Linked DNA regions of Homo sapiens: all the other regions are reported to be linked to region 3. Evidence: microRNA targets listed by miRTarBase, many of them from high-throughput screens and not tested one by one. Region 3 holds a microRNA gene; each other region holds the end of a gene's coding sequence.
The links. Region 3 holds the annotated microRNA hsa-miR-6784-5p (GCCGGGGCUUUGGGUGAGGG, at 1,961-1,980, shown strand). A microRNA usually pairs through its seed, bases 2 to 8, with sites in the 3' UTR of a target mRNA and lowers its output. Matches are read on the target gene's strand: a 7mer-m8 pairs with bases 2 to 8, a 7mer-A1 pairs with bases 2 to 7 and ends in A, and an 8mer does both.

Region 1: miRTarBase lists HPCAL1 as a target of hsa-miR-6784-5p. Seed matches in the 3' UTR shown: 7mer-m8 at 2,782-2,788 and 7mer-m8 at 2,549-2,555.
Region 2: miRTarBase lists UBQLNL as a target of hsa-miR-6784-5p. Seed matches in the 3' UTR shown: 7mer-A1 at 2,340-2,346.

Annotation. Positions count from the first base shown.
Region 1 is chr2:10,426,460-10,429,710 of GRCh38, reverse strand. It overlaps HPCAL1 (hippocalcin like 1), which reads right to left. Exons shown (of 5, transcript NM_002149.4): 5 at 2,107-2,987. The coding sequence ends at 2,890. Among named protein-coding and RNA genes, the nearest start is that of SNORA80B, 19 kb to the left of the region's middle.
Region 2 is chr11:5,512,428-5,515,676 of GRCh38, forward strand. It overlaps UBQLNL (ubiquilin like), which reads right to left. Exons shown (of 1, transcript NM_145053.5): 1 at 1,966-3,249. The coding sequence ends at 2,587. Among named protein-coding and RNA genes, the nearest start is that of UBQLNL, 2.6 kb to the right of the region's middle.
Region 3 is chr17:45,113,172-45,116,388 of GRCh38, reverse strand. MIR6784 (microRNA 6784) reads left to right here and starts at 1,956; the gene lies at 1,956-2,022. PLCD3 (phospholipase C delta 3) reads left to right here. Exons shown (of 15, transcript NM_133373.5): 9 at 899-1,045; 10 at 1,145-1,295; 11 at 2,023-2,139; 12 at 2,784-2,950; 13 at 3,132-3,217. RefSeq lists enhancers at 997-1,862, 2,729-3,217.

The DNA.
Region 1 (3,251 bases), not on the chromosome of region 3:
CATCCATGCATCTACCCACCCACCCAACCATTCACCCATCCATCCATCCATCCATCCACCCACCCACCCACCCACCCATGCATGCATCCACCCACCCACCCAACCATTCACCCACCCATCCACCCATCCATCCATCCACCCACCCACCCAACCATCCATCCACCCATCCATCCATCCATCCAGCCACCCATTCATCCATCAACCGATCCACCTAGGGACCCATCCACCCACCCACCCATCCACCCATACTCCCATCCATCCATCTACCCACCGACCCATCCATCGACCCACCCATCCACCTATCGATCCACCCACCGACCCACCCATTCACCAACCCATCCACCCAGCCATCCATCCACCCATCCATGCATCCACCTGTCTATGCATCCACCCACCCATCCATTCACCCACCCATCCCCTCACCCACTCATCCATACATCCATCCATCCATCCATCCACCCACCCACCCACCCATCCATCCACCCACCCCTCCCATCCATGCATGTCTCCTATCAGTTCTGTTCCTGGAGAACCCTGACTAATGTAGTGGTCACTCCCATCTGTTTCTGTTGGACTCTGTCCCCATCATAAGTGAGCCCTCCCCACAACAAGCACTCTTGATTTAACCTTTGCCAGTCCCAGTTAAATGTTTATAAAATTCAAGCCGTTCACTGGCTGTTCTTCCAGGTGAGGCAGTGTTGCCAAAGGCACCGTCTTGCCTCTTTGTAGCAAGCTAGATCTGCCCAGGGCACCTGGCCTCCATCTCGCACCCCACCTGGTTCCCCCATCAAGGCTTGGTGGCTCTGGGTGCATGGAGAGTTTTACTATGAAATAGCTCTAGCAGTGCCATTGACTCAGAAGGCACTTGGCAAACAGACTCACCATTTCTATTAAAAGAGACATGGAGTCTTAAAAAATATTAAAATGACTAAAATCAACAAATTAGCTGCTGTTGCTGAAGGCCTGCTGGGAGGCAGGTTCCAAGCCATGCGCTTTGCATATGTGACCTTGAGCCACCCAGCTCCCCCCATCCCCTACAGTGAAGACACTGAGGCACAGAGGAGCCGACAGCAGCAGGCAGGTGGGCAGACGCCGTAGTGCCCGTCCTGGTAATAGAACCTCCATTCCACTCACCCCTTCCCAACCCTATGCCCTCTGGGGGAGGCAGATGCCACCTTGGCCAAGGGCCATCTTGACCAGCGTAAGCCAGCCGTGGCCATGACATGGTCATCTTGTGAACACAGGCCATGGTTTCAGCCATGAGATGTGGGGCTGGTGGGGACGGGGTGGTGGGCAGATTCTGGAGGGTTTTCCTGTCCCTCAGTGGGAGGACAGAGGCTTCTCTCCCTGCCTCTTGATGCTCCCATGTCAGCTGTACTGCCCAGAACCACAACAGCAGTTGTAGGCACCCCAGGAAGACAAGCCTGAGGTGAAAAGCTGACTGTGATTAGGAGGCGCAGTGCTGTTCACCCGAGGTCCCAGCTACTCAGGAGGCTGATGCGAAAGGATTGCTGGAGCCCAGGAGGTTGAGGCCAGCCTGGGCAACATAGAGAGACACTCTCTCTTAAAAAAAGAAAAAAAAAAAGACAAGCTGATGCCTGGGGATCCCCAGCGATGCTGCCTTTGGATCCCTTGGCAGGCGAGACCAACCAACCCCCACTTCTTCAGCTGGGCCTTCTGCTGCTGGGACCAGAAGCACTGACGGCAGCGGCGAAGGCTGGATGGAGAACCAGGCCTGCCACCTCTGGGTCCAGCCTGACTGCACCCTTGGCTATGCCCGTCCTCTCTTGGAATGTGGCTTTCCTACGACCTGAAACCGTGGAAGGAGAAGGAGAGGGAAGGGCTGGGGGGAGGCAGAAGCCTGACCGTCAGATCTGCCAAGAACAGTCATCGTTTATTTCCACGAGTATTTCTTGGCATTAGGCAGATATTGAAGAACAGGCTGTGCAAGATTTATAAACGCGGGGACAGCTGGAGGGACGTAAGAGGGGCCGGATTTACCAACAGCGGTGGCACGCAGCACACCCGCCTTGCCTGGAGAGTGCAGGGGCCACGGCCTGAGGAATGGGGGCTCCCGCGGGCAGACGCAAAACTCAGAAAATGCCATTTATTTTATCATTTTAATACCGGAAATGCCAGACCAATCAACAGGGAGGACAGACCAGACACAAATGCCTGTGCTCACAACACGGATGGGAGGATCATCACGGCTCAGGGCACACATGCATTTCCTTAGAAACAGGCAGACAAAGAGAGCATAAATACCACACAACAGCCAGGCTCAGGGGGCTGCGGGCCACAGAGGGCTGCGCTTCAAAGGCAGTCAGAGGCATTAAATACGGGACCTACACAATACACTCCACTTCACCATACATAATTTATATATTAAAAGAAAGGGGACCACAGTATCTATACGTGCAAGCGGCTGTGGTGGAGAAAATGAACGGGGGGGCAGCCATGCACGGGAGGGGCTCCCTGTATACCCTCCCGACGCCTCGTCCCCACCCTTCCCACAGAGTCACTTGGGATCACAAAACGCATGGGCCGGCCGGGGCGCAGCCTCGGGAGGTCCTGCCTGGTCTCCTCGGCATGGACCTCTGAGCTCCCCGTGAGCCGGGAGGTGCCTGGAACCAAGAACACTTGAACCCTGCATGTCACCACATCCCTGGGAGTTGCCCTGGAAGGGACCGGGCCAGGCGTGAGGGGAGGAATGTCGCGTTGGTCAGGTGGAGGAGGGAGGCGCAGCCACCGGGCTGGGCAGGTGCAACGCATGCCCCAGGCCCGGGGCCCGGGAGAGCAGGAACGATTGCGGGGCATCCACTCTTGCAAGCAAAGCTTAAACGGCACGACAAGCCTGTGTTTCTCTGCAACTGTCCAGGGGCCGCTCGCTCAGAACTGACTGGCACTGCTGGGGTCGCACTGCAGCAGGCGGACGATGGAGGGGTCGCTCTTGGCACCTCTGATGAATTCTTCCAAGGACAGTTTGCCTGCAGGGGACCAGAGACAATGGGATTAGCCAGTGCTCACTGTTCTTTATGCTTCCAGAGAGGATGGGGACAGCTCTCAGGTCAGGTATGCTCCCTTTGTTGAAAGTCCTGAGCCTTCTTGAAGCTGGACGGTGTCTAGTCTCCATTCACTTTACAGGCATTTCTGAAAAAAAATCCTTTTTCCTTTCCCTGCTCCCTGCAATACATCAGGTACCTCAAAGGGCTTACCCAGCAAGCTCAGCAGGACGTGGCTGATGAGGGCCA
Region 2 (3,249 bases), not on the chromosome of region 3:
TAGTCATCCTTAGGAAGAAGGTTGTAGATATGTGGGCTTTTCTATTGCTAAATTATGACTTCTAAATGGTAGGATGAAGAGGCTGGAAAACTGGTGACGAGTAGAAAAATGAGTCAAGTGAGGAATTTTCAGAGCATATTGTGATGAAAATAAAAAAGATGACCTGGATAGCCTGAGCTTTTTATGCAAGCTGTAGCAAAGAGGGTATGAAGCTTAATCATATTAAATGGGGAGGTAAAAAATCCATTTTCACTGTAATTTATTTATTGAGACTTATCTTTTTGGTAGGTGTAGACATGAAGTAGGGGTCTTTGGCAGTGAGCTTTCTAGAAACACTTGGAAGTTTGTAGGCCCGCCCTTCACTCTTACCGATGGCCATGTTGGGGCTCAGAAGGGGTGGTCTGTTGAGCACACAAATCTCTGTGGATGGGTCCCCTTTAGAGTCCAGAATCTACTCCTCAACACCTCCCCTGCTCCCACCCTACTGCAAGAAACTACTGTTTCTCAACTGCTCTATCATAAAAGCCTCCTAACTGGTTTCCCTGCTTCCCTGGTTTTCCTCTACCACAGTCCATTCTCCACTCTGAAGCCAGACTGATAAATTGAATTATTTGATTTATTTGCTCAAAACTCACCAGTGACTATTACATTCACAGTAAAATCCAAAGTTTTCACCAGACCTATAAAACTTTTCACAATCTCTCTGACTTCCTCCCCATTCCCCGCTCCTTTTTGTCCATTTCAGCTACATCACCTCCTTGTTATTCTTAAAACATAGCAGGAATACTGCTACCTTGGGCCTTTTACTTTCAGACAGCCCCTGGATCTTCCTTCTCCCAGTGAATTGCATGTTCAGTTCTCGTAGTTACTTCTGACTTCTGCTCAAATGTCACCTTTTCAGAGAGGCCTTCCCTCATCACCCTATGTAGAATATCTTATTCTGATTCATTTTTCTTCACAGCACTTACCACTTAACATAACTTGTATCTCCACAAAAGAAAGTAAAGTCAATAAATAAAGGATCTTTGTTTTTTTCACTGCTATTTTTTTCAATGCCTAAAACAACATTGAATTATTATGGTAAAAGTGTTTTAAATTATTTAATCATGGAATCATTAAAACACAAATAATTGCATATCCTGCCATGGTGGGATACTCTAGGTGAGGCAGAAAGAGAAAAAGGTGGGGCATTGGCAACCATGGAAAATGTAAACTACAAACATAAGATAGATATACTGAAGGAGGTGATATTCTTGGAAGGTGCTGTGCCCCATGGAGGGCTGGATTTGTGGTGACTGGGATATACAGTGGAGATGGCAGCAGCTGCATCTCTGTGTGCTAAAGAGACAGTAGAGACAGCCCATCACCATCTTATAATGGTGGCAAAATCAACGAGCAGGAGGTTCCAATGATGATAACTATTCATCCGGACTTGGTTAATATGTGAATTCACCCTACTCTGGCCCTCATATTATTCCTGTTCCACTTTCAAACTTGAACAATTTGGGTTTGAGAAATTCAGGCAGTCTTTATGACTAAATATCTGGGCCTATCTATGTAAAATGTTTCCCTTTCTGTTTGAGCATGTTATGATTGTTTTCCCTACATATGGGTCTATTTATGTGTCTCTAGGTATTTGCATCTGTGTTTGCACATGGCTGTGTGTACTCATATGTGGACTCTATATGCCTGTATATGTGAATTTTTTACTATGTGAGCTTGTGTACATACACACACCTGTCCAAGGTGACATGCTCAAAATAATCAGTTTCATATACCATGCTCAAGTTTCATATACCATGCTCAAAATGCTCATGTTTTAGAGATAAAAACATTATTTTTATCTCTATATTAATATATGCATGTGGTTTGTGTGTTAATGTACATATAGTAGGTGAGACAAAAATCTCACACAGCTAGTTTTTTCTTTTTTTTTTTGCAAAAGAAGTAAAGCCAAACCTCAGATCGCAGCAAGTGAGTGTAGCCATTTTATTGACAGATGTTTCAGCCACGACCAATGATCTATTATTCAGTACAAGACACATTGGTTGATAACTCTTATTCCAGGACTTCTCCTGGCTGGAAGCATCAGGAAAGGTGCAAAAGGCAAATGAGATGGTCAGGTGGGTCAGCAGGCAGGTAGCAAGCAAACAAGTAGGCATGGTGGTTAGAATCTCTGGGATCTCTTGAGCTTGCGGATAGCAGCATTGGTGTCCCCTTCAGTAGCAATGAGTGCCTGTAGATTGGCATGGTGGTTCCCAAATCCCATGGCCTGGAGAGAATCCATCTGTTTGCTAAAACAAATCTCAGGAGCTTGCAGAGGGTGGGAAGGGTCCCCATCCGGGGATTGTAGCCTCTGCAGGACTGTTCCAGGCTTGTGGCAGCACTCAGGTCCCTTGGGCTCAGCTGTATCTGAAACATTCCAGGAACAGGGCACTGTGTCAGGATAGCTGCAGCTGGGGGCAGGAAGCCAACCCAGGCCCCATAGGTAGGGTGCAACCCAAGGCAGAAGAACAGGAGCCTCTGTGGCCAGCAGCTGGAGGGCCTGCTCAATCTGCAATATTGCTTGGAATGCTTTAGGGTTGCCTAAGCACTAAGCAGATCAGAAATCTGTGTCTGCTGCAGGAATGTGGGCAGCTGCTGCCTCCACTGTTCACTCAGCTGGGGCATACTTGTGAACAACATAATCTGAGCTGCCAGGTAGGGGTTGTTCATAAGCAACTGCATCATGCCTCCTGTGATCTGGGAGCTGCTCTGCTCATCTGACAGCTGGAGATCACCCTTTAATGTCTGTCTGGAGCTACTTAGAGAAACAGTGGCATCCTTGTATTCTTCTTGAAGCTGCTGGGTAAGCTCTATGCTAGGTAAGGCTGGTATCCAAGCTGGCTGCCGAGTGGCACAGATATGGCTCTGGCCCTTGGTGGAAATCATAGCAGTGTTGGCTTTGGAAGTGTGGTTGACCTTGTTAAGGGTGTCATTGGCTGAGGTGTTTGAAGAGAAACCACCAGAGCTATTATAGATGACTCGGGTTGCAGGATGCTGTGTGAGCTGGTCTTGTTGTTCCTGTGATGGTGGTGGAGGTGGGGGTGAAGACTGGACTTGTTCTAGCACTTGTCCTGCCAGGAGAGCTGTGAAAGGGTTTCCTCCAAAAGGATCTTGCATGCTGTTCAGCATTTGATCATTGATATCAGCATAGTTCTGACCCAGGGCATTATTCCCACCTGGCATTGTCTCTAAGCCCAGATATGG
Region 3 (3,217 bases):
GCTGGCCCTGTGTCCCTGCCCGTAGAGTCCTGCAGGCTCTGCCATTCCCACCTGCAAGGCCCCGCTTGACACTTTCTCCACCTGGAAGTCCCTTCTCGGCCATCCACACTTGCCAAGCGTCACCTGCTTAGAATTCAGCTCAACTTCAGCCGCCTCTTCCTGTGGCCTTATCCACTTCCCCAACTCTCGGGCCTGAGGCGGCCTCCTGCTCTCCCCCAGACACCAGAGCGCGTCCTCGGCTCTCTCCAGACATTTATCCTGTCGGGCTCCTTGAGAAAACTCTCCTCCTACTTCCAATCCCCAACATGCAGGCAGGGTTGACTCACCCTCGTGTGTGTGTGAGATGTGATTTTTGTTATTACTGTGAAAATCACACCCGTATGGTAAAAGAAAACTGAGCTGTACTAAGGGACGCGATGAGCAGTGCTCCCCTCCCTCCACTGACCTGTCCTCTTTCACAAGAAGTAACCATCTCTAACTTTCTTGCATGTCCTTCAAGAATTTCCCCACACACATTACCTGTGTACATATGTGTACTGTCTTCTCTTTTAAATGGTACCAAAAAAGGACATGTGATTCCAGGTTGTAGCCTCACTTCTTCCACGTAAGATCTTCTTTGAAGAGGGTCCCTTTCCTTTCAGTCCTGAGCTGTCGCGTGCATTGTAGTGGCTGCTGTGTATATTCTGATGTTGAGGGACCTTATTAAGCATCCCTTCCTGATGGCCTCCCGGGCCATTCTCCACTCTTTCCTATTAGAAACATCGCTCATCTCTGTGTCTCCTTTCCTGCCTCCCACCCCTAGCCAGCCCCTCACAAGGCGGTGGTTGAATAACTGACTGACTGGCTGCCACAGGGGCGAGAAGGCCTAACCCTTCATCCTCCACGTTGGCCCCCACAGCAGCTGAAGGGCCGGGTCCTGGTGAAGGGAAAGAAGTTGCCCGCTGCTCGGAGCGAGGATGGCCGGGCTCTGTCGGATCGGGAGGAGGAGGAGGAGGATGACGAGGAGGAAGAAGAGGAGGTGGAGGCTGCAGCGCAGAGGCGGCTGGTGAGAGCTGGGATGGGTGGGGTGGGGAAGGGGGGGAAGGTGGGAGGACGGATGTGGGAAGCGGGGGCCAGCTGAACCCCGCTGAGCCTGGTCTCCTAGGCCAAGCAGATCTCCCCGGAGCTGTCGGCCCTGGCTGTGTACTGCCACGCCACCCGCCTGCGGACCCTGCACCCTGCCCCCAACGCCCCACAACCCTGCCAGGTCAGCTCCCTCAGCGAGCGCAAAGCCAAGAAACTCATTCGGGAGGCAGGTAGGAGCTGGGGCACTGGGTGTCTGGGGGCGAGAGGGTGAGAGACCTCCTGAAGGGAGTCTGGAAAGGAGTTGAGGGGGCTTTGGGGGACAGTAAAGAGGTCAAGAGGACCCCAAAGAGGGGCTGGGCTGAGGGAATGAGGGCCCCGCACATGCCAGGGTGGATGGAGGGGAGTGGCACGCTGAGGGCGGCCTGCTGTCTGCCTTCAGAGCCCTGTGGTGGGGCCGGCCATAGAGGGTGATGGGTCAGGCTGGGCTGGGGGCTGGGGGAGCCCAGCAGCTGCTGCAACACTGGGGAGGAATTCCTGGGGCAGGTGATGCTGAGAGGACACATCACCTGGAGGACTAGGAAGCAGCCAGGTGAAGAGGGGAGAGCGCTTTCCAGACAGGAGGAACAGGTTGTTGAAGGCCTGGGGCCTTGGCCTGGAGAAGAATTCCAGGAACCACAGTGGAGCTGGAGGGCCGTGGGCATTCAGTGTACTTGGTTGGAACTTTGTCAGGAGCTGGGAATTGGGGGCTGGGGATGCAGGGCCAGGCTGTGTGGCTGGAGGGGGTCCCTGCAGCCTCCTCAGTGAGCTCCCCTCTCACTCTAGGTCAGAAGAGAGTGAGGAGCGGGGGCAGGGTGACCTGGGGACGGGCTTGGGCTCTGTTCCCTGGAGGTTACAGGCCGGGGCTTTGGGTGAGGGACCCCCGGAGTCTGTCACGGTCTCACCCCAACTCTGCCCCAGGGAACAGCTTTGTCAGGCACAATGCCCGCCAGCTGACCCGCGTGTACCCGCTGGGGCTGCGGATGAACTCAGCCAACTACAGTCCCCAGGAGATGTGGAACTCGGGCTGTCAGCTGGGTAAGTGGGGGCCACAGGAATGAGAGCAGGCGGGGTGCCACAGTGTGGGGGAGGCCTCAGCAGTGAGGGGCCCACACAGCCTTCCAGACGGTGGAAACACGCATTTTGTTGATTATTTTTAAAGTTGCCAGCAATGTAGGTGGGAAAATCAAATCAGGCTCGTTTGTTCTTGACAGTGTACAGGTCTCGCATTTTTATCATGGTAGAAATTAAAATCTCCACTCCCATGTCCCCCGGACACACACAACCCCCACACACCTGGCAGTCCCACTAAGTCAACACTGACAAGGGTGGGCTCTGGGGGACGCTGAGCCCCACCAAAGGAGGGCTGTATCGTCTCCTTGGGGTAAGGATGGAAACCCCAGGCTTCCTCAGACCCCTGGCTCTGACCCAAGCCTGGCCCTGAGGGTGGGGGCTTTTTTAGTACCTCCCACCCCAGTCTTGAGGGATCCCAGGGCAGAAGTACAGGTGACAGTGGGGGCTGGGTCCATGACCCCCTCCCCTAAAGTCATGGTGGGAGCAGAGCAGCACTAAGCAGACAGTGGGACCCCAGGCCCTTTGTAGAGAGGAATGCAGTCCCCTGAAACTGAGTAGTGAGAACAGGGCCGCTAAGAGCCCCTGCTCTGACCCTGCTGTGTCCACAGTGGCCTTGAACTTCCAGACGCCAGGCTACGAGATGGACCTCAATGCCGGGCGCTTCCTAGTCAATGGGCAGTGTGGCTACGTCCTAAAACCTGCCTGCCTGCGGCAACCTGACTCGACCTTTGACCCCGAGTACCCAGGACCTCCCAGAACCACTCTCAGCATCCAGGTCAGCAGGCTGGAACGGGCCCCAGTGTGGGGTCAGACTGGTTCTAGAAAGGCTCTTTGTGAGGTGGAGGAAGGCAAGGGAGGCTGGGGACATTTGGAAGTGAGGGTGGTGTGAGCTTGAGGCCCATGAGGGGATGGCCAAGGTGGGCGTGGGCCCCAGCCACTCCCTCCCTCACCCACAGGTGCTGACTGCACAGCAGCTGCCCAAGCTGAATGCCGAGAAGCCACACTCCATTGTGGACCCCCTGGTGCGCATTGAGATCCATGG